Linked DNA regions of Homo sapiens: all the other regions are linked to region 1. Evidence: fine-mapped expression QTL. A gene starts in region 1. Each other region holds a variant in brackets. All regions are shown on one strand. Distances are from middle to middle.

Region 1 (4,067 bases):
TCAGTGCATCAAGAGGAAAAAAGATAGAGCACTGCTGTTAGGAATTCAGATTACAATTGGGGTACCCCACAGAACCAAAATTGGAGCAACTGTAAGCCTCCTTTAGTCACAGAACTAAATTCCAAGACAGACTGTGGGACATCTACAGTAACCCAAAATTTTCACTGTCTTTTTCAAATGCAGTTATACACATCTTTGCAGAGCTGCTCATCTGTTCAACATATACACACGTTTATAGAAATTCGCCTTTTAAGAATGTGATTCTGTTCCTGACATTTATCTAAAAATTATTATGCAATCTGTACACCAGAGTACTAATTTCTAGAAGTCATTCTAAAATGTCTATTTTCCCTTTGGGTTATTTTTAAGATAGTAAAATCCATTCACAGTTCCTTTCCCATTATTTCTCTTTACTTTGTTAGCCAGGACTGTTTAACTCAAGCTTACGTTATCAGAGATTTAAGAATGTGGTGTGTGCAGACTAAGTACAGGTAAGGAAAAAAAAAAAGAAAAAAAAAGGAAAAAAAGAGCATCACTGTGCCCATAGCAACAAGAAGATTGGGTTTTAATTTAGAAACTTTGCAGTGAATAAAACAATAGCTTTCTGCAAAACTCTGTTGTCGTTTTGTACCTGACAAGGTTTTGTGGTCTAAGCAGTTACTTTTCTTTGTTATTCCCATGTTGAGATTTTTGTACTTGCATTCCCTTTCATGCAAGCTAAATGTTCTTTACAATGTATCATCATTGAACTTACCGATAGTACATTAGGTTTTTTTCTTCTAATAAATAGTTCTGCAGCAAAGCCCACTGACTGCAGAAATGAAGATACCAGTTTCTCTAGGGAGTTTAATTTAATCGAACATCTAATTTCAGGTTTCTATTAACAGCCTAAGGTCAACTAACATACCTCTTTTCAAACCAGAAGAAATCACTCGTGGACACTTTCCTTAAACACTATTACTAACTCCAAAAAATTTGTAGATATTAATGCTAGCAGATTGTTTTTTCCCCTAAAAGCAAGTCTTCTTCCCTAGGGTGAGGCAGATCATCCAGATGAATTTCTCTTATAAAAATGCTCCTCAAATTCGTACAGAAAAGGATAGCACAAAACTGCTGTGTGGAAAAACCTATAATGAACAACTGGCCTATTCCCCACTTGATTTTGCTGGCACATTTCAGGTACTTGTCAGAATACCACTTCATACTTTTTCCCATATACCAGACTCTTGTGAGAATATAATCAATATATTTAAAATGTCTTGGGTGATATTAATGGAAACATAAATTCTGAGTAAGAAATTCAGTGGTTAAGTGTAAAATGTTTATTTTAGTGAAATACAAGAAGGTGAGCAATTTCCAATTTCCGTTTAACTTGACTTATTAAAAATAAGTCTCATTCACATTCTTCTAGTATTATTGTATACTGCTATAAAATTTAAACCAGAAAAGTGCTTCTCCTTGTCAGTAGCTATCTGCCCAAAAAAATGAATATGACAATTCCAGATCTCATCTGCCATCTCTAAGAAAGCCACTTGGAAATGTTAGGTAGGTCCCATGGGTCCTGATCCAGGGATCTGTCCCTGGGTCCCCATCAGGCTCGGCTGCAGGCAGTTGCCTAAGGCGTCTTCCGCCTTCAGCCACGCTGCAATCCTTGCTCCAGGCACTGCGGCAGGTTCTCTCCATGCCCCCAGGAAGACTCTCCAAACCCGACCAGCTCATTTCTCCTGCCCCGGAGGATCCAGACGCCCTGGCAGCTCCTGGGCTCCAGAACCGAGAATGGGATGCTGCCTCCAATCCCAATTGCCCTAAGTTTCTTTCCAGAGGGCCGGGAGACTGCTCCAAGTTTGCTGTGGCGGGCGAGCGGCCGCGCGCCGTGTCCTGGGAGGGGGGCGGCGGGGGGCGCGGGCGGAGGGAGGGGAGGGGAAGGACGCGGGAGCCTGGGTTGTGGTGGTGGTGGGGGGGCACCGGGAGGGGGAGGAGCAGGAGCGCGCGGCCGCGGCGCTACCTTTCTCCAAACAACGTTGCCACACGCGGAGAGCACGGAGATTTCTGGGGCTTTGGAGGGAATCGTGAGCGGGCGGGAGGAGGCCGGGGACCACACAGGTGAGCCCCCGCCCGCGCCCTGCCCGGGACGGCGGCGGGCGCTGCCAGCCCCGCTCCCCCGCACCCGGGGTCCGCACGGTGCCTCGCCTCAACCCCTCACTTTTCACCGCGAACCCGTGACCCCCTCCTCCTTGCTTGCTCTCCGCCCCCACCCCGGCTAAGTGTAGCCGCCACACTTTCCCAAGCCCGCAGGCGCCCCCCCCAACACCAGCGCTGCACCCCCGACCCATTCCCCGCGGCCCCCTCCAGGAGAAAAAATGAAACCAGACTGGCCGAGGAGGGGGGCGGCAGGGACCAGGGTGCGGAGCAGAGGTGAGGGAGACGGGACTTACTTTGCGAGGCGCGGTGCAGGGCGCCGCCGACGAGAAATAAAGGCCCCGATACGGGCTGCCTGGAGCCCCCCGAGCGCAGCAATGTCAGGGCTCCAGTCCGGGCGGCGTTGGCGGCCGCAGGGGACGGGGACGGGCGCGCGTGCGGCGGGCGCTCTCGCTGCGCTCCGGCTCGGGCCCCGGCTCCGCGCGGCTCCGCTCCTGGCTCCCCTCTGGCTCCTGGCACCAACTCCGGGCAGTCACATGACGCCGGCGCCGCTCGCTCTGCGAGCCTCCCGGGGCTGGCGGGGTAAGTAGAGGCTGGGACCCGGGGTGGGAGGGTCAGGGAGGGGAGAGGGAGCCGCCGCGGCCGCCCGGGCTGGGCGGGTCCCCACCCACTTGGGTGGAGGCAGCCGCCGGAGGGGTCGGCCGAGTCACTCGCGCAAACACGCACCCCGCCCTGCGCCCTTCCCCCGCCACCCCCGCCTCCCGCGCCGCCTCCGCCCCGCCCCGCCCAGTCACCCGGGGACGGCCTGACAGACACTCATTATTCCCCGGAGCCGGGCGCCGCCCCGCCGGCCCAACCTGTCCCACGAGGCGCGGCGCGGCCGTGGGGCTGGGCGTGCGCGGCGCGGCCTCCGCCCCCCGCCCGCGTCCCCGCCCGCGTCCCCTCCCCGCGCCCTCCTCCCCGGAGTCCGCGCCCCGCCAGCCCTCCCGCCCGGCCCAGCCGCCGCGCCGCCGCCCGAGCCCGGGGGGAAGGAAGGGCGGCGCTGCCCGCTCCGGGCGTCACACGGCTGCGGCCCGCTGCGCTGCTTCCAAAACACACAGCCGGGCTCGCGGGCGAGCCGAGGCGGGGGGCGCGGGCTGCCAGGGCCATCGATCAGCCGGCTCCAGCGGGAAGGGCGGCCCCGGGCGCGGCGGGAAGGGCTGGGCCCCGCGGCCGGCGCGGCGCGGCGCGGCCCCTCCTCGGCTGAGCGCACTCAGCTCACTGCAAGAGAAAAGCCGAGCCGAGGCGGCCGCGGTGCAGGAGCGAGTGGGCCGGGCGGGTTCGGGAGGGGAAGAGCGGCCGCTGGGGCGCGCCGAGCCTCCCTGGCCCCGAGTCGCCGGGGTCAGGGGACACCCTGTAGGCGCGCTCTTTCTTTGTGCCCTGGGGCGACGGGTCCCCCTGGCCGGCGGCCCAGGCGGCGCCCCCCACCTCGTGGGACTTTTCTTTGAAGGCCCGGAGACCCCTGGGGCAAAACTCCCACGGGCCAGGCCTGCCGCTGGAGCTAAAAAGCGGCATTTGCGCAGTTGGGCTTGCCTGGAAACTTGGCAAACTTTGGTCGGATCCTCCCCTGCAGAGCGAGGGCCTGGCCTGGCGACCCCCTCATTTCAAGTCGCTTCTAGGGACCTAGCGCCCTAAGCTCAGTGGCCTTCAGGGTGCTGCGAGCGAGCGGGGCGGCACAAAAGCGCGTTCGGTCCAAGCCAGGCCCCTTCGAGGACTTTGTGTAGATTGGTACCTAAGTTTAATGCCTTTTGAGTTTCTTTTTAAACAGTATTAATGTAATAATTAATGTAATAAAAAGAACAAAGGACGAATTCGTTCGATTGTTTTAAGTTCTGTGTAATGTTTAAAACCGCCCCTGCTTCAGTGTATGGCTTATTATTGCTTCAAGA
Region 2 (4,067 bases), 830 kb before region 1:
CTGCTTGAAAATATTATTGTATTCTGCTTAGTAATTTTATATTCTAGTAAAGGCATTGTAAGTCCAAAGATGTATGAAGATGTATGCTAAAGCAGATAGAATTAGGCACTTGTCCTGTCCAAATGAGGAATTTTTAAATTTTTAAATGGTTTTTTTTTCTATTTTTAGACATCTAATGCTATAGATTCAAACTTTTTCTACTCTTGTCTAGATATGCCAAATGCTGGCAAAAAATTGCTTTTGTTGTTGTTGTTGTTCTTTTTTTTTGAGACAGAGTCTTGTTTTATTGGCCAGGCTGGAGTGCAGTGGCACCATCTCGGCTCACTGCAACCTCTGCCTCCTGGGGTTCAAGCCACTGTGCCCAGCCTAAGAATTGCTATTTGGATGTTGCCGAATTTGTAAAAACACAGCAATAAGCAAAATCCTTTTGAACAAAGAAGTCCTGAGTTCATCTCATTGGTGGACTGAAGCAATTCTGTAGCAAATAAATCCTTTGAAAGAGCTCCAAAAAGAAGAAAAAAAGAAATAGGTACTTGTGCCGGGTGCAGTGGCTCATGCTTGTACTTTGGGAGGCTGAGGTGGGGGATCACCTGAGGTTAGGAGTTCGAGACCAGCCTGGCCAACATGGTGAAACCCCGTCTCTACTAAAAATACAAAAAAACTAGCCAGGCGTAGTGGCACGCGCCTGTAATCCCAGCTACTCAGGAGGCTGAGGCAGGAGAATCACTTGAACCTGGGAGCAGAGGTTGCAGTGAGCCAAGATGGCGCCATTGCACTCCAGCCTGGGCAACAAGAGCGAAACTGTCTCAGAAAAAAAAGAAAAGAAAAGAAAAGAAAGAAATAGGTACTTGTTTTAAATTGCAAGATGTTTCAATGCCTGGAACTGATAAGTAAACAATTATTGTAAGATATAATTACTGGCCGGGTGTGGTGGCTCATGCCTGTAATCCCGGCACTTTGAGAGGTCAAGGTGGGTGGATGCTTGAGCTCAGGAGTTCAAGACCAGCCTGGGCAACATGGCGAAACCTCGTCTCTAAAAAAATACAAAAAATTAGCCATGAGTGGTGGTGCATGCCAGTAGTCCAAGCTAACTGGGAGGCTGAGGTGGGAAGATCACTTGAGCCCAGGATGTCAAGGCTGCAGTGAGCCGAGATTGTACCACTGCACTCTAGTCTGGATGACAGAGTGAGACCCTGTCTCAAAAAAAAAAGAAAAAAGTTACTGGTAAATGGAGGAAAATGGGCAAAAGAGGGCTCATAGAGCCAGATAAACTTGCTGTTTGAAATGGGAGGAAAAACTCAGTAATTAGGCATGTAACTTAACAGCAATTTGAGACTTTCATGTGAAAAGTTGAAAGAAGGTGGTTAGTCTTTTTTTCTCTCCTCAACCAGTTAAAGACAATTGTTGTTTTTTTTAATCATACAAACTTTCAGTTTTTAAAAATATATATATTTAAATTTTTATACCTGATCCCTACCACCAGGAAAAGTTTCAATTTTTTATTAGCTAATATATTTTTGGTAGGGCAGAGGAATATTGGTAAGATTACTAACTGTACTTAAAATTGAAAATAATAGGCCGGGCGCTGTGGCTCACGCCTGTAATCCCAGCACTTTGGGAGGCCGAGGTGGGTGGATCACCTGAGGTCAAGAGTTCGAGACCAGCCTGACCAACATGGAGAAACCTCGTCTCTACTATAAATACAAAATTAGCCGGGTGTAGTGGTGCATGCCTGTAATCCCAGCTACTCAGGGGGCTGAGACAGGAGAATCGCTTGAACCCGGGAGGTGGAGATTACGGTGAGCCGAGATCATGCCATTGCACTCCGACCTGGGCAACAAGAGTGAAACTCCTTCTCAAAAAAAAAAAAAAAAAAAATTGAAAATAATATATGGACATGGTAAAAAGACATTCACATAGATACAAAAGGATAAACAAAATCTCTCTCCTACAATTTTCTCTCCTACAATTCCACTTAAGACTTCTTGGCTAAGCTACCTGAAAGCCTTATTTTTCCCATCTGTAAAACAGATAATCCATCTCCAACTCGAAGAATTGTTATAAAGATTACATGAGATGAATGTTTACACAAAGATCTTCTTGGCACAGTGACTGGCAGGCAATGAGCACTCCTGTTAGCACCATAACAAGCTGGTCCCACTGCACCAGAACCACGTGTAGGCTCTGGAATCACTAGAAGGACAGTAATTAACACTGAACATTTTGGACAGGCACTATGCAAAGTCCTTTAGGTGCATTTTCTCATCTGTTCCTCACATAAGTCTTTATTTCATTTCATTTTTTACTTCCCCATGTTATTCTAGGACTCATTTAAGTCTTTTGAGGTAAGTTCTGATCCTGTGATTCAGACTACAGGCAGAAGGCTCGGAAGATTTAGCAGCTTGCTCAGGGTCACACCTTAATAAGTGGCAGAACCAGAATTCAGGACAGACTATGTGACTTTTCT[C/T]TCCAGCTTTTAATATTAGTCATTCTGCTTCTCTGGATACATAAAGGTGCCCAGGTAAAAGTCATTCTTCTCAAATGCAAAGAATTAACCAGGCATCAGGCCAATACTTGTCATGCAGACTTAAGCCAATACTTTGTTATGCAGTACTTGTCACTGGTGCCTTATCTTCCTATTTCTCAAGAAAAAGCTAAAAATCTGGATTTGGTGGTGTGGTGTTTTTTGTTTTTTGAGACGGAATCTCTGTTGCCCAGGCTGGAGTGCAGTGGTGCAATCTTGGCTCACTGCAACCTTCACCTCGCAGGTTCAAGCTATTCTCCTGCTTCAGCCTCCTGAGTAGCTGAGATTACAGGCACCCACCACCATGCCCGACTAATTTTTGTAAAAATCTGGATTTTTATATAAAATCTCTCAATTTATAAGTGTTGGCACGATGTTTAAAAACAAATTTTTACACTACACACACCAAAATATCTGTGAAGGGTAGATCTAGATCAAAGGTTGCTAGTTTTTAAAAAAAGAAAACCCTAAATTCTGACATAATTTTAGATTTACAGAAAAGTTGAAAGAATGGTACAAAAATGCTGTATACCCTTCTTATTCACTAAATATTAATATTATATTTGCTTTGTTTTATCCTTCCTGTATACATCACACATAAAATTTATATTTATATAAATTTTTTTCCTGAATGATTTGAGATTAAGTTGCAAGGCCAGGTGCGGTGGCTCATCCCTGTAATCCCAGCACTTTAGGAGGCTAAGGTCAGGAGTTTGAGACCAACCTGGACAACATGGTAAAACCTCATCTTTACTAAAAATACAAAAAATTAGCCGGGCATGGTTGTGCGCACCTGTAGTCCCAGCTACTTGGGAAACTGAGGCAGGAGAATCATTCAAACCCGGGAGGCAGAGGTTGCAGTGAGCTGAGATTGTGCCACTGCATTCTAGCCTGGGTGACAGAGCAAGACTCTGTCTCAATAAAAAAAAAAAAAAAAAAAAAAAAAGAGAGTAAGTTGGAGACATGATTCCCTTTTCCCCTAAATACTTCAGGGTTATCTCAGTTTCTGTGGGTCAGGAATTCAGGAACAGTTTAGCCAAATGGTTCTGGGTCAAAGTCTGGTTGTAATCAAAATGTCAACCAGGGCTTTGGTCATCAAAAGGCTTGACTGGGGCTGGAAGATTGTCTTCCAAGATGGCTTGCTCATATGACTATCAAGTTAGTGCTGGCGGTTGACAGGAGGCCTCAGTTCTTTGCCAACTGGATCTCCTCATAGCACTGCTTGAATATCCTCATGACACAGCATAGCAAGTTGGCATCTTCAAGAGTGAAAAAACCAATAGAGGACAAGACAGAACCTCCAATGTCTTTTATTATCTAGCCTCAGAAATCATACCCCATCATTTCTATAATATCCTATTGTTTAACCAGATAGCTCTATTCACTGTCTGAAGAGACATGGATATCAGGAGGTGATAATCACTGGGAGCCATCTTGGAGGTTGGCTATTGGAGTTTTATTTCCCAAAAAATAAGGAAATAGGGCAGGTGCAGTGGCTAACACCTGTAATCCCAGCACTTTGGGAAGTCAAGGCAGGAAGATT
Region 3 (4,067 bases), 76 kb after region 1:
CCACCATGCTGTGAGGAAGCCCAAGCTAGCCACATGGAGTGAGAGTGTGAGAAGAACCTGAGGCACTGGGCATGTGAGTGAACACTTCATGGACCTAGACTCTAGCTGAATGCAGCTGAGTGAATGAACCTAAGCCAATGCCTTGTGGGGCAGAAGAACTGACCAGCCAAGCCTTGCCTAAATTCTTGATCCATAGAATTGTGAACAAATAAAATGGTTGTCATCTGAACCCAGTAGGTATTGGGGTAGGTTGTGACACAGCTAATAGATCATTCAAACACACACACATATTCTTAGATAATGATAGAGATACACATAGGATGCTACAGGAGCACAGACGAGGGGTCCCAGAGACAGCCTGTGGTGATGATGGGATGGGCATTGAATGCTTTCCAAAGAAGGCTGGCTTGAGTAGCAAACTTCACATCTCTATAGACCTGGATGTGAACCAGGCTTGAGGGAAAGTGAAGGCTGTCTGGGTACAGGAAAACAGAACAAGAAAACATGGAGGTGATGAATAGCATGATACATATGTGAGGGCTTTTCAAGCAGGAAGTAATGGGTAAGTTTGCAGGGGTGTCATCATCATCATCATCATTGGGATAGATGCCATTTATTGAACACTTGATATATGCCAGATGTGGATCTAAGGTTTTCTATATGTTAACTCATTTAAATAATTCTAACAGCAAACCTATATTATCATTACCTTTTTACATTAGAAGCAAATGAGGCACAAAGAGATTAAATAACTTGCTCATGGGCACACAGCTGTCAAGCACAGAGTAAGGATTTGAACTCAGGCAAGATCTCAAAGAACTTTCTGTGCCTCTTTGAAGATCTCTGTATTTGCTCTGTAGGGATACAGAGTAACCCAGAGGTTTTAAGTAAGGGAGTGGCATGGTCACATCAAAAGATTCTACTGTTTTGCAATTTTTCCCACTTCAGTTATTTTCATTGTCTGTTGTCTGTTTCTCTATAGTGACTAGCAATGAATCTCTTATAACAAGCAGAGCCTGTGAGCTCATCTTTGAGAGGATGTAAGGAAGGAGGGAGGGGCATGGGTCACGTACAACTCCACAGCTGGTCGTAGGGGTGGAGGGAAGGACAGAACGCCCAGGGAGAAAATGGGTGTGGTGGCCACCAAGAGAAGAAAGCTGGCTGCATCCTTGACCCCAGGGAAGAATGAGGACAGCAGCACATGGGAACCAGCCTGTGCTAAACTCTTTGGAGCTGAGGTACCGATGGGATCCTAGGCTTTGCAGACAATCTGCCTTTCTCTCTTTCCTTCTCTCCATGGCCCTTCAGGAGATTAGCATCAAAATATTAAAAACAGCTGTTGAGCTCCTAACAGCAATTAGCAAGGAAGAGAGCATTCCATGGAAATCCAGAAATGTTCTCCTGGCCATGGCTATTGGCTTCTGAAGAAGTCCTTGAGGGCAACTGTGGAGTCGCGGGACCCACATATACCACATCCATCTTCTCTCTGTCCCTTGCTCTGTCTCCATGTCTACGGGCATGGAGCAGACTCAGCGGAGTCTGAATCTCTGTGCAGATTTGTCAGATTCTTGTTCCAGCAGCTTTTCATGCAAGGAGGGAAGCAACAGAGTGTAGAATAAGAAAGAAGTGTGGCTTAGGGCCTAGGAGAACCTAGAAGACCTAGCCTCCAGCTTAGCTTGGCCAATACTTGCTTTGTAGGATATGGGCAAATGTCTGAAGTTCCTAGGTCCCAAGGTCCTCATCTGCAATATGAGGGTGTTGGATGAAGATTAATCTTA[C/T]CACAAAGCATAAAAATTACAATAGCTGAGGTTTACTACACATGGACTAAAAACCTGACCCTTTGCTAAGGACTTTTTTTACTTTTTTAGTTAATCCTCACAATAACCCAAGTTTAATGAAGCTTACTGAAGCCTTCCCTCATCCAATCCAAAGCTCCCTGTATACATTATCTATTGCTGTGTAACAAATTACTTCAACTCTTCATGGCTTAAAACAATAATAAAATGTATCATCTCATAGTTTCTATGGGCCAGGGATTGTGAAGCAACTTGGCTGGGTGGTTCTGGCTTGACGTCTCTTATGAATCTGCAGGCTACAGTCTTCGGAAGCCTTGACCAGGGTTGGACGATCACTTTCAACATGATAGGTTGGCTCTGGCCATTGGCAAGCTTGGTGCTGGCTATGGGCAAGAGGCTTCATTCATCACCACCTCACCCTAGGACTGTCTGTTAAATTACTTGAGTGTTCTCTCAACGTGGCTGTTCGTTTCCCAAGAATGAGTGACCCAAGAGAGTGATTTGGTAGCTGCAATGTCTTTCATGACCTGTCCTTGGACATAACACCCTCCCATTGCCTTATTCTGCTGCTTCTAGTTTTAAATTTTAACCATGTTTCTGATGACAAGGAATGCTGCAAAAATACTCTAGTTCAACAAAGAGTTATGATCACAAAATAATTTTTATCCATTCTACAGTGTTTCAGAATTACCAGTTGATTTTTAAACACAAAGTAGATATAGATGCCAATGGTGGCTACATCTTATTGGTTACCTGGGTTAGCCCACTCAACATGAAGAGGAACACACAAGGGGATGAATATCAGGAGGCGAGGATCATTAGTGGCCATCTTTGAAGCTGCCTACCACATCTTCCCCTTAAATTTCTATCATATTATTGTGTTCTATTTTTAATAGTTTTTATCTGAAATCATCTTTTTTTGGTAGAGACCCATTTCCTCCCCATTAGAAGATAAGCTTCCCAAGAGCAGGAATTTCATCCTTTTTATTGCTGTACCCCCAGCACCAGAACAATGCTGGTTGCATAGTTGTTGCTCAATATTTAGCATGAGATAGGTATTACTTTGCCAATTTCAGACACAGAAACAGAGGCTCAGAGAAGTTAATTTGCCTGAAGTCACATAGATATTAAGTGGTGGAGCTGAGAAACCAACTTATGCATAGGGACTGATACCCACAGTCTACTTGGTTGGCCCTCAGCAACTCCATTGCTGCCATTATGCAAGTGTCTGCACATGAAGAGCAGGACAACATCCAGGAGAAGGGCCAGGAGAATTCCTGGGTAACTGGGAGATACCAGGAGGAAGTGCATGAGTGTCTATATGAATGGATGCATGTGTATGGTTGAGATGGTTGAGTGTGTATATTTGTGTGTATAGCAGACAGAGAGAAAGAGAGGGGGGACAGAGAAAGAGAGAGAGAGAGAGAGAGAGAGAATGTGTGGATGTGTGGGTAAGGTAGCTGGATCAAAGGGGAGATAATGTACTCTGGACAGCTTATATGACACAGACCTGGAGATAATATTTTGACCTTAGCCTTATTGGTTTTCTTTGAAAAATTTTTCTCCAAGGAATATTCTTATTAAAATGACTAAGTAAATTTTCCTTTAAAAATCCCACATGCAATTTAAGTCATTGGTTGACTAGCAAGTCTACTGCCAAATTACACATGGAATACTAACTTGATTATGTTTGCGGGAATTATCCATTTTCTGGATTATTGGCCAGAAAAAGAGAAATACTGTCTGTTGGCCACCCACTCTCCATTCTCCTTTCCACCCTCCTGAGGGAGGGGCCCTGATATTCATCAAATACTCAATGGGGTTCTTTTAGAACAAAGCCTTATCCACCCCCTCTCCTTGCCTGGGAGCTAGAAATTTGGGGGAGGAATGAAGGGAAATGGTTATGAAAGTCCCTCACTTACTCTCCCTCCTCTGAGGCATTCTGGGTGCTGAGTTTTGGAGCAAGGGGTATTGTGTGTAGAGTAGAGGTTTTTGGTCTTTGAGTGAAAGCAGAGTGGAATCCAGGAGAAAGCCCACATAAGTTGATTGCTGAGGCTGGCTCTGATCTAGTATGGAAGTGAAGGTGGTGGTGGGGTCCCACAGTTACTTCAAGGCCCAGCCCAGTTTACCAGGGTAGGAAAGCAGAGAAAGATTTTGTGTAGAAGGCCTGCTCAGGAAAAATGAGTTTGCATTTAGCTTGAAAGTATCCTCAGGAATCTGTGGGTGGCTGTGGTTAGCTGGACCAAAAGCAGACCTGGCTGAAAGATTGAA
Region 4 (4,067 bases), 22 kb before region 1:
CTTAACAATTACATGGGCTTTACAAAATAGTTTAGATTTCGATATATATGTGACCTTAAAAAAATGCTCAAAGAGGTGGTCTCAACATTAAAAATGCTATGAGAGGCGGTCTCAAAAATATTAAAACTAAGATCAATGTGGTCACTACTGCAGATGAAAAATCTGAAATTTAATCCTAAGATGATTCCTGTGTCAAACATTAAGGCCGATACCTGGCAAAATTCTAAGACAGGTGATAGCACAGGCTTGGGGGCCATTATCATTAGGAGTCAGAGGTGGGCATCACAAGAACCAGTCAAGCCAAACCAACCTGGTTGCTTTTCTGGTGGGGTTTCTTGATGAGCAGGAAATGCTCTCTAGCTTTGATGTCTAACTTCGGCAGGACAGCTCTTTCTCAGGATAAGTAGTGTCTTCAACTTCAGCAGGACATTGATTTCTCATCATACTTGTGTATAATAAGCAAGAATGGGGCTGCAGGATAGGCAGTACCTTTCATTTGATGGGCTTCAGCAGCTGTACAATCCATGCCTAGGACTGGCCAACAATCCTAGTCAGCGTGGAACTGTGCTAGTTTCAGCACTGAAAGTCCCACATCCCATGAAACTCTACAGTCTCAGGCAAACCAGGAGGGGGTCAGTCACCATACACACCTTTGTACTGAAGGCCACCCTCACTGCGGCAATGATGTCCCTGGCCCTAACTTGCTCAGTGTTCTTATTCAGAATCTGAATGAAGCTGTAGACTTGAATGGCAAGTCTGTGGATGACACGGAACTATAAGAAACAGCTAACGTGATATGACTCACATAAGGAAATGTGGAGCTCAAAGTCATTCACACAAGCTGAGGCCCTGTGTTCTCTCCTCTATACCCTGCTACCCACTCATCAAATGAGGCTGGGGCACAAACAAGGGAGTGCAGAAGAGACAGAAGAGTCTGTTTCCTTCCCAAGATCTGGTCCACAACTGACCTCATTTATCTTCAAACACCTTTCTCTCTTTAAATATCAGGATAACCTAACTTTCATCTGCCAGCTTTAAATACAAACCAGTCATCATAATTTCACACAATGGGCACTATCCTTGACCATGGAGTTCACCTAAATTACTTCTATTCCTTAACTAACATTTTGTTGTAAATTTTCTTTGTAGAATGCAACCTAATTTTTAATTTAAAAAAATTAAACTCAACATAAACCATCATCTTTACTAGGCATTTTAGGGAAACTGAAATTTTGCATGTCAAGCCTGCTTACCTGCAGAAAATTCTTTGTACTTGAATGTCTGACAGTGACAGTGATAAACAACATATTGTGCTTCTCTTCCAGCTCTAAAACCCTATGTGTTTAAGAGTTAGAGGCAATACTAACTTGGGATGCAACCAAGAAAACCCAATGGTGCCTTGTAATTAAACAGCGTAAATGCACTATTAATTTCTGGGTCTCCTTGGCCCCTCTGGTGGCCACTATTGTGAGTTATGACTGTGGGGCAGCAGTGGTTTTGATAGGGATTCCTACTGAGATCACCCTCTTTCCTCTCTGGGCTTGGTCTGGGCGAATCCTCGGCTGGTTATGCATTGGAATCATCTGTGTTGTTTTTAAAATTCCAGATGCCCAGTCCCTGCTCCAGGCCTGCAGAGCAGCCTGTTAGGGAGGAGTCAGTCAGTGAAACTTTATCACATAACTGTGTTTATCTTTATCTGGTTTGGATGTCAGGTCCTCATGGTTAAGATCAAGGTTATGGGATAACCTACACAACGAGCTTATACACATGCCATCCTGGAAATCCCTTCTTGTCCCTGCTTATACAAGAGATGCTCACTGTCACGGGCTCTACTGCTCCCAACCAGAGTTTCTCAAACTTTACTGTGCACATCCATCTCCCTGGAGCACTCGTTAAAATGCAAATTTTGAATTACCGGGGAGTGGACCAAGGGAACTTAGGCTACCTTTTGAATAGCAATGCTCTAAATGACAGAGATAAAAAATAAAGATACTAAAGGTCTATTTAAAGGAGGGAAAAAGAATTTTCTTTTCTTTTTTTTTTTTTTTTTTT[TG/G]AGATAGGGTCTCACTGTTACTCAGGCTGGAGTGCAGTGGTATGATCATAGCTCACTGCAGCCTCGACCTCCTGGGCTCATATGATTCTCCCAACTCAGCCTCCAGAGGAAGTGGAACTACAGGCACATGACACCACGCCTCGCTAATTTTTGTATTTTTTTGTAGAGACTGGGTTTTGTCATGTTGTCCAGGCTGGTCTCGTACTCTTGGGCTCAAGTGATCTGCCTGCCTCAACCTCCCAAAGTTCTAGGATTACAGACATGAGCCACCACGCGCAGCCAGTTTTCACTACTAATACTGCTTAAAAACAAGAACATGAAGGATATAAAATCAGAAAACACAAAATGCATAAAAACAGCTTTGAGTTATAGATCAAGGATCAAATGAAGAAAAGATTCTCTACCTTTCTTTAAAGCCAGGCACGCACAGTACCAACGCAAGAGATCCAAAAGATAGCAACATTAAGTATTAAATAGATTTAAATTTAAATATTAAGATGGGTATTATTAAAAGAGGCACAAGGTTCATTAACAACACAACAAAATAAATCCATTATAAATCATGTACACTGGAGGGTTTCAGGGAGTAATTAAATATAGGAAGGAGAATGATTTCGCCTAGTCCTAAAGTCTAATGTGCTTTATATAATTCTCCAAAGGGCAATGGTTCTGGTACTAGGAAAAAACTTTAGGAAATGGGAGGCAGCATTGTTTCTATTGACGAAAATGTAGCTTCTCCCTTATTTTCAGCCCTGTTCTTCCAAGACCTCCCTATGACCTAGATTTTAATGCCAATAGTTATTGGCAGCTAAATGGGAAGCAAAATGAGGACACAGTTTTATTGCTGTCATTGCTGGATTTTTCTATGCATGGGGTGAGTTTTGGGAGAGTAGGAATTTAGAACCTCCAGATTTGCAAATCTAATAATATTCTCAGGTTTCTCAAGCCATTAAGACAGAAAAAGCCACACATAAAGCTAAGCTTTATCAACATTATGCAGTTTGCTGATAAGTCTGTTCTCAAATGAATGCCCTCATTCCCTCTATTGGATGTGCGATTATTGTAAGGTACAAGACTAACTGTGGGGAGAGACACATTTGGACACAGACACCCAACTCTGGGCAGATAATTAACTGTTTCCAGCCCAACTGCCTCACAAAAGGGTGAAGACATGTGGTCCCTCAAGCTGGTTCACTTTATTTGGGTGGCACACACAAGCTTTTGCAATCAGCTTCCAACAATCTGGTGCCGTGTAGGGACTGACACGGCAGGGTGTGTGCTCTGGGCAGGTACAACCTGGTAACAGTCTTCCCCGCTCTGTTCCAGACAGTTCCTATGTTCTATCAAAGCAATGCATACAAGCACGGCTGTACTGGCCCCATATCCAAATCAGAGACAAATGTTGATGAAGCAAAAAATGTGCCTCTGGCCACGGATGGACCTCCAGTGCCCTCTGTGCATGCTGCTTAGTCCAAGAGACCCTGTGTCCTGGAACAGAGCAGTCCAAAGACAAGACACAGACATGGGTCTTTCCCGCTTCTGCCTCTGGCCCCCACTAGGGATCTTAAGGGCTTAAAACAATGGGCTGGGCCAGGCATGGTGGCTCACACTTTTAACTCCAGCACTTGGAGAGGCTGAGGCAGGAGGATATCTTAAGGCCGAGAGTTTGAGACCAGCCTGGGCAACATAATGAGATCCTGTCTCTACAGAAAAAAACAAAAATGTAGCGGGGCATGGTGGTGCTTGCTTGTAGTCCCAGCTACTGGGGAGGCTGAGGGAGGAGGATTGCTTGAACCCAGGCGTTTGAGGTTGCAGTGATCTTGCTACTGCATTCCAGCCTGGGCAACAGGGCAATACCTTGTCTCAAAACCAAAACCAAACCAAAAAAAAAAAAAAAAAAAACACAAAAAACCAAAACAAAAAAACCTCCACAAAACCACTGATCTGCTATAAGAGTTATTTCCGTCTGTAACATGTACTCAGATGTTCACACCCCTGCACAGTGTGCATTTAC
Region 5 (4,067 bases), 67 kb after region 1:
CTTTGTGAATATAGTTTTGTTATTGATTTCTAGCTCAATTCCCCTGTGGTCAGGTAACATACTCTGATTTCAGTTCTTGAAATTTGTTGAGACTTGCTTAATGGCCCAGCATTTTGTAATTTTGGTGTATGAACTAAGTGTGTATTCTGCAGATGTTGGGTGCAGTATTCTATGAAGACCGATTAAGTCAAGTTTACAAATGTATACTCCTGTAAATGTAAACTGATTTTTGTCTTATTATTCTATTAGATCTCAGAGAGAGTAATAAAATTTGAATCTATGCTATTAGTTACATGTAAATTTAGAATTGTTGTATGTTCTTGACAAATCTAATTTTCATCATCATGAGGTCACTTTCTTTGTCTTTAGGAATGCTTTTAACCTTAGTGTCTAGTTTGACATTATTGTTAAATCTTTGAGAATTCTGATATTTTAGTCTTGTGTTTTGTAAGTAGCATATCAAATTCAGTGTTATTCGAGATAACAACCTTTGTCTTTTAATCACTGAATTTAAATATTTACATGTTATGTAATTTGTGATATTTTGGGGTTTAAATCTACCATTTTGCTCAGCTTTTCAATTTGTACTGCTTGTTCTATGTTCCATTTTTTTCATTTCTTGCCTTCATTTGCATTGATTGAAAATTTTTAAAAGTTATTTGAGTCCTATAAATTCTTGTGGTGATTACACCAAATATTGCAATATGTATATCTGACATAAAAATAAAATATCATTTGGTTGTTTTTTCTCTTCTGGGGAATGCATGTACTGTAAAACACTATCACTCTGTCTCTCCTGACTTAATGCTTTTTCAGTGTATTATAATTTTCTATATAATTCTCCACAAGATTTTACTTTTGGTTTTATATAGTCAATATTCATTTGTAGTTATCATGCCTTTCTGCATTTCTGACTTTCTACCTGAAACCTTTTCCTTTTGCCTGAAGACAGATTTATATATACGTAGATAAATAAATTCAAGTCTACTGGGGATGAACTCTCCCAGTTTTGGTTTGTCTGAACATGTCTCTTTTTACTTTCATTCTTGACATATATTTATATCTTGAGAGCAGAATTCAGGGTTGGCAGTAATTTTTTTTCAGCATTTTGGAGCTATTGTTCCATTGTCTTTTGGCTCAGAATGTTGCTGTTGAGGAATAAGCTGTGAGTCTGATTATTGTTCCATTGATGGCAATCTTTTTCTCTGGTTGTGTTGAAGATAATTTCTTCGTTCATTTTTTTGTTTTTAAATTTAACTAGTTTTTGATTTCCTGAATCCATCAATTGATGTATTTAATTAGTTTTAGAAATGATTCAGCTGATTACTCGTAAATGATGTTTCTGTTCCATTACCTCTCTTCGTTTAGTATTTCAGTTAAATATATATCAGAACTTTTCATGGATCTTTTATATCAGTGTCATGATTTGGAAAAAGAGAAGTACAAAATTGAGAATAAATATTCTGAAACCAACTGGCAGAGTAATTTTATGTCCTTTGAATCCAATAAAAATTTGGGCATATATTCAGTGTCTTTTTATTATTTCATTGTTCTAATAATTCATTTAAATTACATTTTACAAAGATATCATTTTATGACATTTTGGATTTTTTTTTAAGTTTGGAAAGTGCTTTACCAGCTTCCTTAACCTTCTTATAATTTTTTTTTAGCTTTGTCTTTTAGCTTTGTAGTATGGATATTTTCTTCCATACTACAAATTCTCTCTTCATCTGTTTGTAATTAAATGTGAAAGCTATTGTGTTTTAATTGTTATTTTTTTAATTCTAGCATTTTCACTGGCTCTTTTAAAAAATTAGTTTTCAGTTCTCCGCCAAAAGTCTCAAGGTTGACTTTTGTCTCTCTGAGCAAATTAAATATAGTATTATTTGAAGTCAATACACTTTTTTTTTTAAGTTGAAAAACTCTAATTTCTGAGCCTTTGTGATCTATGTCTGTGATTTCTTGGTTTTCATTTGTGTGGTCTTGTCTTGTTTTTCTGTTTTTCTTTTATTGTATTCAGATATTTGTACTTAAAACATTATTTGTAGACATAATTAGAATTCTATAATGATGTTGTCATTCTCCAAAGTGAATTTATATTTACTTCTGCTAGGTACTTGGGGCCTTAGCATTATGGGATCATGTTAATTCAATTCCAGGTACTGTGAAACTGAGTTTCTAGAACCTTCTTTTGGTTTATCATTGTTTTTAGGGTACTGTCCTTCAGTGGCCCATCCAAATGCAAAGAGATTCACCAGAGCTATCCAGGCTTGGTGATGCTGGGCCCCAAAATTGGCCTTAGCTCTGTGAGACACTTTTTAACCACCTTCCCGCTCAGCCACTTGGCCTCTCAGTCCTGCTTTTAGAAATTGGCATATGCTTCTAGGCACAGTGACTCACACCTGTAACCTCAGCACTTT[G/A]GGAGGCTGAGGCGGGTGGATCACTTGAGGTCAGGAGCTCGAGACCAGCCTGGCCAACATGGTGGCTGTCTCTACTAAAAATACAAAAAATTAGCCGGGTGCGGTAGTGCATGCCTATAATCCCAGCTGCTTGGGAGGCTGAGGCAGGAGGGTCACTTGAACCCGGTAGGCAGAGATTACAGTGAGCCGAGATCGTGCCACTGCATTCCAGCCTGGGCAACAGAGTGAGACCCTGTCTCAAAAAAAAAAAAAAAAGAAAAGAAAAGAAAAAAGAAATTGGCATATACCGTATTGGCATATACTGTAGAGAAAACTGCCCTACATGCCGGACTCAACTCCCTTGGTCTCTATCCTTTACCTGATACTAACCCAGTAATTCTGCACTATCTTGTTAGCTCTCTAGCACACCGGAGTAGATTTTTAAAGTATATTTTGTTTTGCTGATTGTCCTCAGTAGGTGGGATGGTATGAATTACCTAGTTCTCCATTCCTAGAACAGGAAGTCTTATATAATCTAGGTTTAACCAAATATCTCCATTAATGAGTAAGTGATTATGAAAATATTTTTAAAAAGAGGTTGATTCTGGAGATTTCCCTAATAATACAAATTTAATTGAACAACAAGAAAGGGCAGGGCTGACATTTTTCTAGCCCCTTATATAAGTACTTCTTTAGTTACATTACCAGAGAAAGCCATGAACAAAATAATTTGGCCAAAAAATTGTGAAATTATTCAGATAAATGTGATCTTTTAACAATAAATGAGGAAGTAACCATGTTTAATGCTATGAGTAGAGCATTTTGAAAATGGATATTTGGGAAATCTCCAATAGTTATGTATTTTTATTGCCAAAAATGCAGTGAATATGCCTCTTTAAAAACTCTCGTATCTACATACTTGGAAATGGAATTTTTAACCTTTTAAAAATGATAAATAAACAGTTCTAGGGGACTTTGAATCAACTTTTTTAAAGTTTGTATTAACAAGTAGTTGACATTAGGGAAGATAAAAATTTACTATCCAATTTTTATTGGAAACTTTAATTGATGGATAGGGTTGAAAAACAAGTATCATACTTTAGTGAGATAAGCAATAAAGTTCTTTTCTTGTTTTAATTAAAGTATTTTGGAAGTATCTTTTCCATGTCTGATAACTATTAAAACCAAGCACCAGGCCAGGCATGGTGGCTCACGCCTATAATCCCAGCACTTTGGGAGGCTGAGGCGGGTGGATCAAGAGGTCAAGAGGTAGAGACCATCCTGGCCAACATGGTGAAACCCCGTCTCTACTAAAAATACAAAAATTAGCTGGGCGTGGTGGTGCGTGCCTGCAGTCCCAGCTACGCAGGAGGCTGAGGCAAGAGAATAGCTTGAACTTGGGAGGTGGAGGTTGCAGTGAGCCAAGATCACACCACTGCATTCCGGCCTGGCGACAGTGAGACTGTCTCAAAAACAAAAAACAAAAAAAACAAAAACAAAAAAAACCAAGCACCAAAAGAAATGAATGTAAAATCAGACCTTTTATTCATAGAGGTTTAAATAGTGAAGCATATTCAATCACACAGCTCTCATCAAAATATTATTAATGAGAATTTCAAAGGTAAGCGCAAAATAGTTTTTGCATCATTAATAACATTATAAAAATGT
Region 6 (4,067 bases), 35 kb after region 1:
AAAATTTGAGCTGGGGGAAGAGGCAAACTGTGAGATGTGCCTCAGTCTCCTCCCCTGATTAAAATAGTTCAGTGACATCCCAGTGTTTTGGTGATCAAGTCCAAACTCCTGAATGTGGCACTGCAGGTTTTCTTGATCTGGCAATGTGTCTGCCTCTTCAGTATCTTCTGCAACCCTCCAACCCATAGACTGTGTTCTCACTGGAACTCACTAGGTTGTGGGGTTCTCCAGGTGCTCTGTCGCCCAGGCTGGAGTGCAGTGGCGCGATCTCGGCTCACTGCAACCTCCTCCTCCCGGGTTTAAGTGATTCTTGTGCCTCAGCCTCCCGAGTAGCTGGGAGGACAGGTGTGCGCCACCAGACCCAGCTAGTTTTTTAGTAGAGACGGAGTATTGCCATGTTGGTCAGGCTGGTCTTGAACTCCTAGCCTTAAGTGATCCGCCTGCCCCGACCTCCCAAAGTGCTGGGATTACAGGCATGAGCCACCGCGCCCGGCCAGGATTCTCCATGACTTCTGACACGCTTTCGCTTTTACAAAGGATGCTCGTGGCCTGTAGTGGCATCCTCAGCTGCCAAGCCTCAGTGTAAGTGTCACCTTATCCAGAAGATCTGGCCCACTCACCTTCTCTACCTGTTTGGGTACAATGCTGCTCCTAAATGCTCCCAGGTACCCCAGGCGTACCTTGTGTGTTCTATCACTTGTGTCCTCCTGGGTATTAGTCTCCTGTTGCTCCCTAGGTGACAGCCCCCTGAAGGCAGAGGCTGTGCTTTGTGTCTCTGTGTCCTTATTGCATGCATGGCTCACTGCCTGGCCCCAGGAGGCCCTCCCTCAGAAAGCATCCACCCCCGATCCCCACTTCATGGGATCCACTCATTGGCAGCCTCAAAGAAGTAAGAGAGACTGAATTTAAAAGTCCTTGCAAAGGCTGGGTGTGGTGGCTCACGCCTGTAATCCCAGCACTTTGGGAGGCCAAGGCGGGCCGATCACGGGGTCAGGAGATCGAGATCATCCTGGCTAACATGGTGAAACCCCGTCTGTACTAAAAATACAAAAAATTAGCCGAGGGTGGTTGCAGGCGCCTGTAGTCCCATCTACTCGGGAGGCTGAGGCAGGAGAATGGCTTGAACCTGGGAGGCAGAGGTTGCAGTGAGCCGAGATCGTGCCACTGCACTCCAGCCTGGGCGACAGAGTGAGACTCCATTTCAAAAAAAAAAAAAAAAAAAGGCCTTGCAAATGACTTCTTTACATAGAACCTAAATTAAAATTTGGAATCACAAAACACAGCATTTTATAATCTGGAAAGGATTTAGAAGTTATCTAGGGAGGTTGTTTTCAATCAAGAGTTGGGGGACTAGTACAAGTCTGAGGCACAGTTTTCACACTCCAGGGCAAAATGAGAAAAACATGAGCAATGGAGCAGACAAAAAAATAAAAATCAGGATAAATGCATTACATTTAATGATGGTTTCTTATTCAGAGAGTATGTTGCCCTCCTCCCATTTTAAGGTTATTTATGGATGATATGCTAGTATGTGGTGGTGTTGTGTTTTTATTTCCTTGGTAACCCTGCATTAGTTGTTAGTTCCTTCTTGATTTTTTTTTTTTTTAGTTTAATTGGTCTATTAATTCTAAAAGTCTGGAAACCCTAGCTCTTGTGTCTTTACCCTCAGAACTGAGATCCAGAGAGATGATGACTTTGCCCATAGACCAAACAAAGAAATACATGTTTCAGTCCTGTGTCCTCCTGCTATGGTATGTAGTGCAGTTGTGTACTTTAAAAAATATTGTCTATATTTGGTGTGATTGGTTTTCTGTTCAGCATTTTAAATTCAGAAATGAACCAGTCAGTTAACATATTTGTTGTATTGCAATTGGAAACAGTCTTGCTCTCTCAGAAGCGTCTGTAACCATATGGTATTACTGTCTGTCAGTATTTGGTGAGGTTTTAAGAAATGTCAGAGTTCTGAAGTTATATATTAAATATATGTAATGTTATTATTGACTTTGATATGAAAATAAAGACTGTTCTCTTTCAATTTTTGAATGCTTACTAAGTTTGAAGATGCTGTAAGCACCTTAAAAAAGAATTTAAATGACTGAATTTGGCTATTGCTGTAATTCTGCTTTTTAACATCTGAATACTGTTCAACTGAGAAATTCCACTTCTAAGAGCTTATCATAAGAAAATAATGAGAGATACATTATGCAGAGATGTATGTATAAAGCTGTTCATTAAAGCATTTGTGTTAAACATCAGAAATAAATGTCCAATAACAGGAAATTGGTTAAATACATTTTGTTACAGTAACTTAATGAAAAGTACTTTGGTTATTAAAATGGCTGTACAGTGGACCCTTGAGCAACATGGGCTTGAACTCTGCAGGCCCACTTACGC[A/G]TGGATTTTCTTCCTCCTCTGTTGCCCTTGAGGCAGCAAGACCAACCCCACTTCTTCCTTTTCCTCAACCTGTTCAACATCAAGACTATGAAGATGACGAGTTTTTTTAATTTTATTTTTTGAGCGGAGTCTCACTCTATCTCCTAGGCTGGAGTGCAATGAAGTGGTCTTGGCTCACTGCAACCTCAGCCTCCTGAGTAGCTGGGACTACAGGCACGTGCCACCACACCTAGCTAATTTTTGTATTTTTAGTAGAGATGGGGTTTCGACATGTTGGCCAGGCTGGTCTCAAACTCCTGACCTCGTGATCCACCCACCTTGGCCTCCCAAAGTGCTGGGATTACAGGCGCGGGCCACCACACTCGGCCAAAGATGAAGACTTTTATGTTGATCCATTGCCACTGAATGAATAGTAAATATATATTCTCTTCTTTATGATTTTCTTTGTAACAATTCATTTTCTCTAGCTTACTTTATTGTAAGAATACAGCATGTAATACATATAACATACAAAATATGTATTAATTGATGGTTTATGTTATTGGTAAGGCTACTGGTCAGCAGTAGGCTGGCAGTAATTAAGTTTTTGGGAAATTGAAAGTTATCTACAGAATTCTGACTGCGGGATTTGTGCGGGATAGGTACCCCGAATCCCTGTGCTGTTCAAGGGTCAACTGCATTTTTATTTTTTATGTTCTTGTCTAAATTTTCTAATTTTATTTACCACAATTATATTGTACTTATATAACTAAAAAGTGATAAAATTTGACTAGCTCAATGCTTTGTACAAATAATGTTCCTTATTTGTTTTTCATTTGCTTTTTTTCAACTTGACATTGTTGATTAATATAATTTGACAGCCAATGAAAGTTCAGTATATGCAGATTCTAAGTTTTAATTTTTTGATTTCACTGTTATATCTTCTATTTTTATGTAGTTTTCCTTTTCTGAGACTGAACTGCTGTAAATCAGCACATAGTCCAACGGGAAGCTGTCATTTTCACTTTCAGCATCGTGCTCCCCTGCAAGTTCTTATTGGAGGTTCTAATTAAGTATCAATAGGGTCAAGCACCATAAACTCAAAGATCTAGAAGACATTTGAAGAAGCAATTGTCTAAATATTTCTTTCTTTTTTTTTTTTTTGAGATAGAGTCTCACTCTGTCTCCCAGGCTAGAGTGCAGTGGTATGATCTCAGCTCACTGCAACTTCCGCCTCGTGGGTTCAAGTGATTCTCCTGTCTCAGCCTCCCAAGTAGCTGGGATTACAGGCGCACGCCACTACACCCAGCTAATTTTTGTATTTTTAGTAGAGATGGGGTTTCACTGTGTTGGCCAGGCTGGTTTCGAACTCCCGACTTCAGGTGATCTGCCCGTCTCGGCTTCCCAAAGTGCTGGGATTACAGGCGTGAGACACCATGCCCAGCCAATATTTCTTTTTTTCTCTAGACCCAACTGCATCTTAGCTCAGAGTAGGAATATTGGCCATGGGATTTTCCAGGTTTGCAGCCTGTTGGCCTAACATCTAGAAAGAATAGCATCCTTAGTATTTCCAGCCCCAAAGTAGTCTTCTTGAAAAAGGAAGATAGTAGGAGCTTGATTATATTGTGACTGTGTATGCCTGTGTATGTGCCCACTTGTGTGTGTGCCAGAGAGGGAGGGAAGGTGAGTTGGAA
Region 7 (4,067 bases), 440 kb after region 1:
CAAAGTATAATGTGAGACTTGAGGCAGACGCACAGCCAACATGTTTAAGAAACAGCAAAGAGGCCGGGTGCAGTGGCTCATGCCTGTAATCCCAGCACATTGGGAGGTCCAGGCGGGTGGATCACTTGAGGTCAGAAGCTCGAGACCAGCCTGGCCAACATGGTGAAACCCTCGTCTCTACTAAAAATATAAAAATTAGCCAGGAGTGATGGTGCACGCCTGTAATCCGAGCTACTTGGGAGGCTGAGGAATGAGAATCACTTGAACCCGGGAGGCACAGGTTGCAGTGAGCTGAGATCGCTCCACTGCACTCCAGCCTGGGCGACAGAGCGGGACTCCGTCTCAAAAACAAAACAAAAACAAAACAAACAAACAAACAAAAAGCAGCAAAAAGGTCAGAGTGGAGGGGAGAATAGGAGATGAGATCAAGAAGGCAAGTGGGTAAATCAGGTACAGTTTGCAAGGCAATAGAAAGAGCTTCTGGTTGCATTCAGAGAGATTTTGGAAGCCACTGGAAGGTTTTGAGCAGGGGATGGCATGATTTGGCTGACCTTTTAAAACCTTTGGCTATTTAGAAGAGAACATGGGGAGCAGGCCAAGAACACAGCAGGGAGAGCCGGCAGATACTATTGCAATAGTCCAGGCAAAGATGGCAGGGGCTGGAGGTGGGAGAGTAGTGGCAGAGATGGGAAGAGATGAGGAGTCGGATTCAGAATATATTATAAAGGTAGAGCTGATGGATTGTATGTGGGGTTTGAAAGAAAAAGAGGCATCAAGATGATGCTAAGGTAATTGGCCTGAACAACTGGAAGCTGGATCTGCCATTTATTGAAATAGGACAAACAGGAGAGAATCCAATTTGCCCTGGGCAAGGTCATGAGTTTGGTTTGTATATATTAAGTTTAAGATGCCTACCAGACATCCAGGGAAAGATGGCAAATAGGCAATTGGATATAAGAATCTGGCATTCCAAGGCTGGGCATGGTGGATCACACCTGTAACCCCAGTTTGGGAGGCCAAGGTGATTCAAGGAAGATTATTTGAAGTCAGGAGTTTGAGACCACCCTGGCTAACTTGGTGAAGCCCCATCTCTACTAAAAATATGAAACTTAGCCAGGACTAGTGGTGCATGTCTGTAATCCCAGCTACTCGGGAGGCTGAGGCATGAGAATTGCTTGAACCTGAGAGGCAGAAGTTGCAGTGAGCCAAGATTGCACCACTGCACTCCAGCCTTCTAGCCTGGGGGACAGAGCAAGACTCTGTCTCAAAAAAAGAAAAAAAAGAAAGAAAAGAATCTGGCATTCCAGGAATACATACAAGATGGATATATAAAAGCCTCCCTCTTTGGGAGAGCCACAGACATGGGACTCCAACCTGTGAGAAGTGCAGAGGCAGGACCCCAGCCCCAGGGGACCCAGAAGGCAGAAGGTTGTTCTCAAGCCTTAGAGTTTAATGTCATTTATTCCACTGGGCTTTCGACTTGTCTGGGATCTTTCACTCCCTTCTTCTTTCCTGTTTCTCCCTTTTGCAGTGTGAATGTCTATCCCGTGCCTGTCCCACCATTGTATTTTGAAAGCACATGACTTGTTTGGGTTCACAGGTCACAGCTGGAGAGGAATTCACCTCAGGATGAGTCTTACCCATATCTGATTTAAGTGATATTTAGACGAGACTTTGGACTTTAGATTTTTTAGGTAATACTGGAACAAATTAAGACTTTGGGGGTTGTTGGGATGAGATGAATGTGTTTTGCATGAGAGAAGAACATGAATTTTGAGGGGTTAGAGGCAGAATGCTATAGACGGAATATTTGTGTTCCCCCAAAAGTCATATGTGGAAACCTGTTCCTTTCATGATTGTATTTGAAGGTGGGTCTTTTGAAAGGTGATGAGATCATGAGGATGGGGCCTTCATGAATGAGATTAGTGCCCATATAAAAGATAGACCCCAGAGAGCTCCATTACCCTTCCCTCACGTAAGGACAACCATCTGTGAACCAGGAAGGAGAACCTCACCAGACATGGAACCTGCCGGAAACATGATCTTTGACTTCTCAGCCTCAAGAGCTGTCAGAAATAAGTTTCTATGTTCATAAGCTACCTAGTTTATAGCATTCTATGCTAGTAGCCTGAATGGATTAAGACAGGCTCATTTTCAAAAAACATTTTAAAAAGCCACATCCTCATTTAATGTTATGTAAATCTCAAAAGAAACTAAATAACAACCCAAAGCAAATTGAAGCAATGAAATAAAACAAAGTCTTTAACTCCTTTCCCACACAAATACAAACCCCTGCCCCCCACCACAGGATCCTAATTCCCCATCCAATTCTCATTAAGAGATTCTTTCCTAACCCAGACAATTATGAACTAAGC[G/A]TGCCACCCAACCACTCCCCTTCTCCTCCTCTAATGCCTCGTTTCACTGGCATTAGAAACAGTTAAAAAATACCATTTCAGGCAATACAATGAAAGCAGCTGGGAGAGAGAGGGCCAGACTCAACATTGTTTCTGGCAGGAAGAGAAGTTCCAGAGAATCTGATAATCAGAGGCTTTCATTTTCTTGCTCAAACCTGAGATGACTTTATCTAAAACTAATAACTTGGCAAGAGTACATCTACAAACTGCCCCGCCTCCACCTCCATTAAGTATGGAAAGAGTTCAAAGAGTAAAAACATACATAATATTTGCTGTAAGAAAAGTAGATCTTTAACACAAAAAAGATGCCGGAATTCATGAGAAGTGTGAAGCCGCCTCTGCTGGATCTAGTTTTGGTTAGTGATGCGCCTGCAAGCCACCCAGACCCACAGCCAGACCCTGTGGCCACCGCACAATCAAAGGGACTTTTATATCAGACACTGAAAGGCTTCGCTGTGAGCAGCCTGAGTAAGGGAGCAAAGAGAGGCAAACAGAGCTGCTTCCTCAAACCAGAGGACGGAAGGCAGGACCCCTGTTTCTCTTCCTGGAAAAGTCCTACTGATTGCACAGTTCCCTCACTATAAAGTAAACAACAGGCATTAGAACTCTGCCACCCAAATAAATACAGGGCTCATTTGTGTGTCTAATGGTTAACACAAGGTGCAAATGCCACGGGTCACATGGGTTAATTCAGAAAGAAAACAAATGCAATTAATAATTGACTTGGGCTTTTAACTCCCACGATGGGATGAATACTTCGACTTTCTACAGAAGAACAGTAATAAAGAAGAGTGGCCCCAAACTGGGCTCCCAGTGGCTTTTTAATCAGAGAAGATTGCCAGGGCCATAGATTTAACATTGGCAATTAAGCTTCATGGGCCAAACAAATGCACTGGCCTGGTGTATTTCCCTGAAACCCTATCTTCAATAATGCCATAAATTGGAATTGCATTGCACAAAAGAAGCTGATTCTAACTGCTGCAAAGAAAGTTCACAAAAGTTCACATTTAACTTGGCAGGCCAAGGCAGGGCACTTTGGCAACTGCACAGATTCTGATTTCAATTCCCTAAATCTGCCCTCAGGATTTCATTCTCCAGAGGATGGGTTGGCAGCAGGAAGGTCCCTTTGTGATTGATTTATTAGTTCCAATGCTTTATTTACAATTTTACAGGATATTGTAGCAGGGGAGCAAAACCAGTTCCATGGAAGTGAATCAAGTCTCATGTGGTTCGATGTTTTCTTCTGACCTTGTAAACCTCTTCCCCTTACCCCATTACTTTTTTGGAGTTTGTGTGAGCAAACCTAGGAAAGCTGGTTTGTAGCATGTAACTGGGTGAGAAATAATTTTGGTTTAATTTTTTTTTAAGCTCGCATCACCTTTGTTCTCCAGGCCTCAAAACATGTGGAAAAGACTGCCTTTAAGAAAGGAGGTGTGGGTGGGATTGGGGTACAACTTCAGGGAGTGGCACCAAATAGAGGTATCATAAACACATGAGTCTACAAGCACAGGATCTGGTCATGTTTTCCAAGACCTGAGAGGACTTTCTAATCATCAGATCCACAAACATTATTGGCTCCTGTTTCCAACAAAGTAAAATCTAAGAGTTTTCAATATTGGATTCTTATGTAGCTTTCCAGTCGTATGTCCCAAT

The links. PIP is the estimated chance that this variant, and not a neighbour inherited with it, causes the effect.
Region 2: its variant is fine-mapped to the expression of KLF3-AS1 in liver (GTEx, PIP 0.98).
Region 3: its variant is fine-mapped to the expression of KLF3-AS1 in tibial nerve (GTEx, PIP above 0.99).
Region 4: its variant is fine-mapped to the expression of KLF3-AS1 in memory regulatory T cells (Schmiedel 2018, PIP 0.95). The same link has a PIP of 0.9 or more in Th2 cells, naive CD8 T cells and regulatory T cells.
Region 5: its variant is fine-mapped to the expression of KLF3-AS1 in whole blood (TOPMed, PIP above 0.99).
Region 6: its variant is fine-mapped to the expression of KLF3-AS1 in esophagus muscle (GTEx, PIP 0.94). The same link has a PIP of 0.9 or more in pituitary.
Region 7: its variant is fine-mapped to the expression of KLF3-AS1 in gastroesophageal junction (GTEx, PIP above 0.99).

What each region holds. Positions count from the first base shown.
Region 1 is chr4:38,662,830-38,666,896 of GRCh38, reverse strand. KLF3-AS1 (KLF3 antisense RNA 1) reads left to right here and starts at 2,004. Exons shown (of 16, transcript NR_171644.1): 1 at 2,004-2,103. It overlaps KLF3 (KLF transcription factor 3), which reads right to left and starts at 2,698. Exons shown (of 6, transcript NM_016531.6): 1 at 2,436-2,698. RefSeq lists an enhancer at 1-474, silencers at 1,958-2,307, 2,368-2,967, 2,978-3,247, 3,278-3,797 and a promoter at 2,436-3,238.
Region 2 is chr4:39,494,088-39,498,154 of GRCh38, reverse strand. No RefSeq gene overlaps it. Among named protein-coding and RNA genes, the nearest start is that of UGDH, 31 kb to the left of the region's middle. The variant C/T (reference allele first, on the strand shown) is at 2,468.
Region 3 is chr4:38,587,263-38,591,329 of GRCh38, reverse strand. No RefSeq gene overlaps it. Among named protein-coding and RNA genes, the nearest start is that of LINC02278, 25 kb to the right of the region's middle. The variant C/T (reference allele first, on the strand shown) is at 1,779.
Region 4 is chr4:38,684,430-38,688,496 of GRCh38, reverse strand. All of the region lies in intron 2 of KLF3 (KLF transcription factor 3), which reads right to left. Among named protein-coding and RNA genes, the nearest start is that of KLF3-AS1, 22 kb to the right of the region's middle. RefSeq lists cis regulatory regions at 281, 1,199 and enhancers at 197-366, 1,115-1,284. The variant TG/G (reference allele first, on the strand shown) is at 2,053.
Region 5 is chr4:38,595,787-38,599,853 of GRCh38, reverse strand. KLF3-AS1 (KLF3 antisense RNA 1) reads left to right here. Exons shown (of 16, transcript NR_171644.1): 16 at 1-761. Among named protein-coding and RNA genes, the nearest start is that of LINC02278, 34 kb to the right of the region's middle. The variant G/A (reference allele first, on the strand shown) is at 2,421.
Region 6 is chr4:38,628,184-38,632,250 of GRCh38, reverse strand. KLF3-AS1 (KLF3 antisense RNA 1) reads left to right here. Exons shown (of 16, transcript NR_171644.1): 3 at 1,670-1,751. Among named protein-coding and RNA genes, the nearest start is that of KLF3, 34 kb to the left of the region's middle. The variant A/G (reference allele first, on the strand shown) is at 2,395.
Region 7 is chr4:38,222,893-38,226,959 of GRCh38, reverse strand. No RefSeq gene overlaps it. Among named protein-coding and RNA genes, the nearest start is that of LINC02513, 140 kb to the left of the region's middle. The variant G/A (reference allele first, on the strand shown) is at 2,376.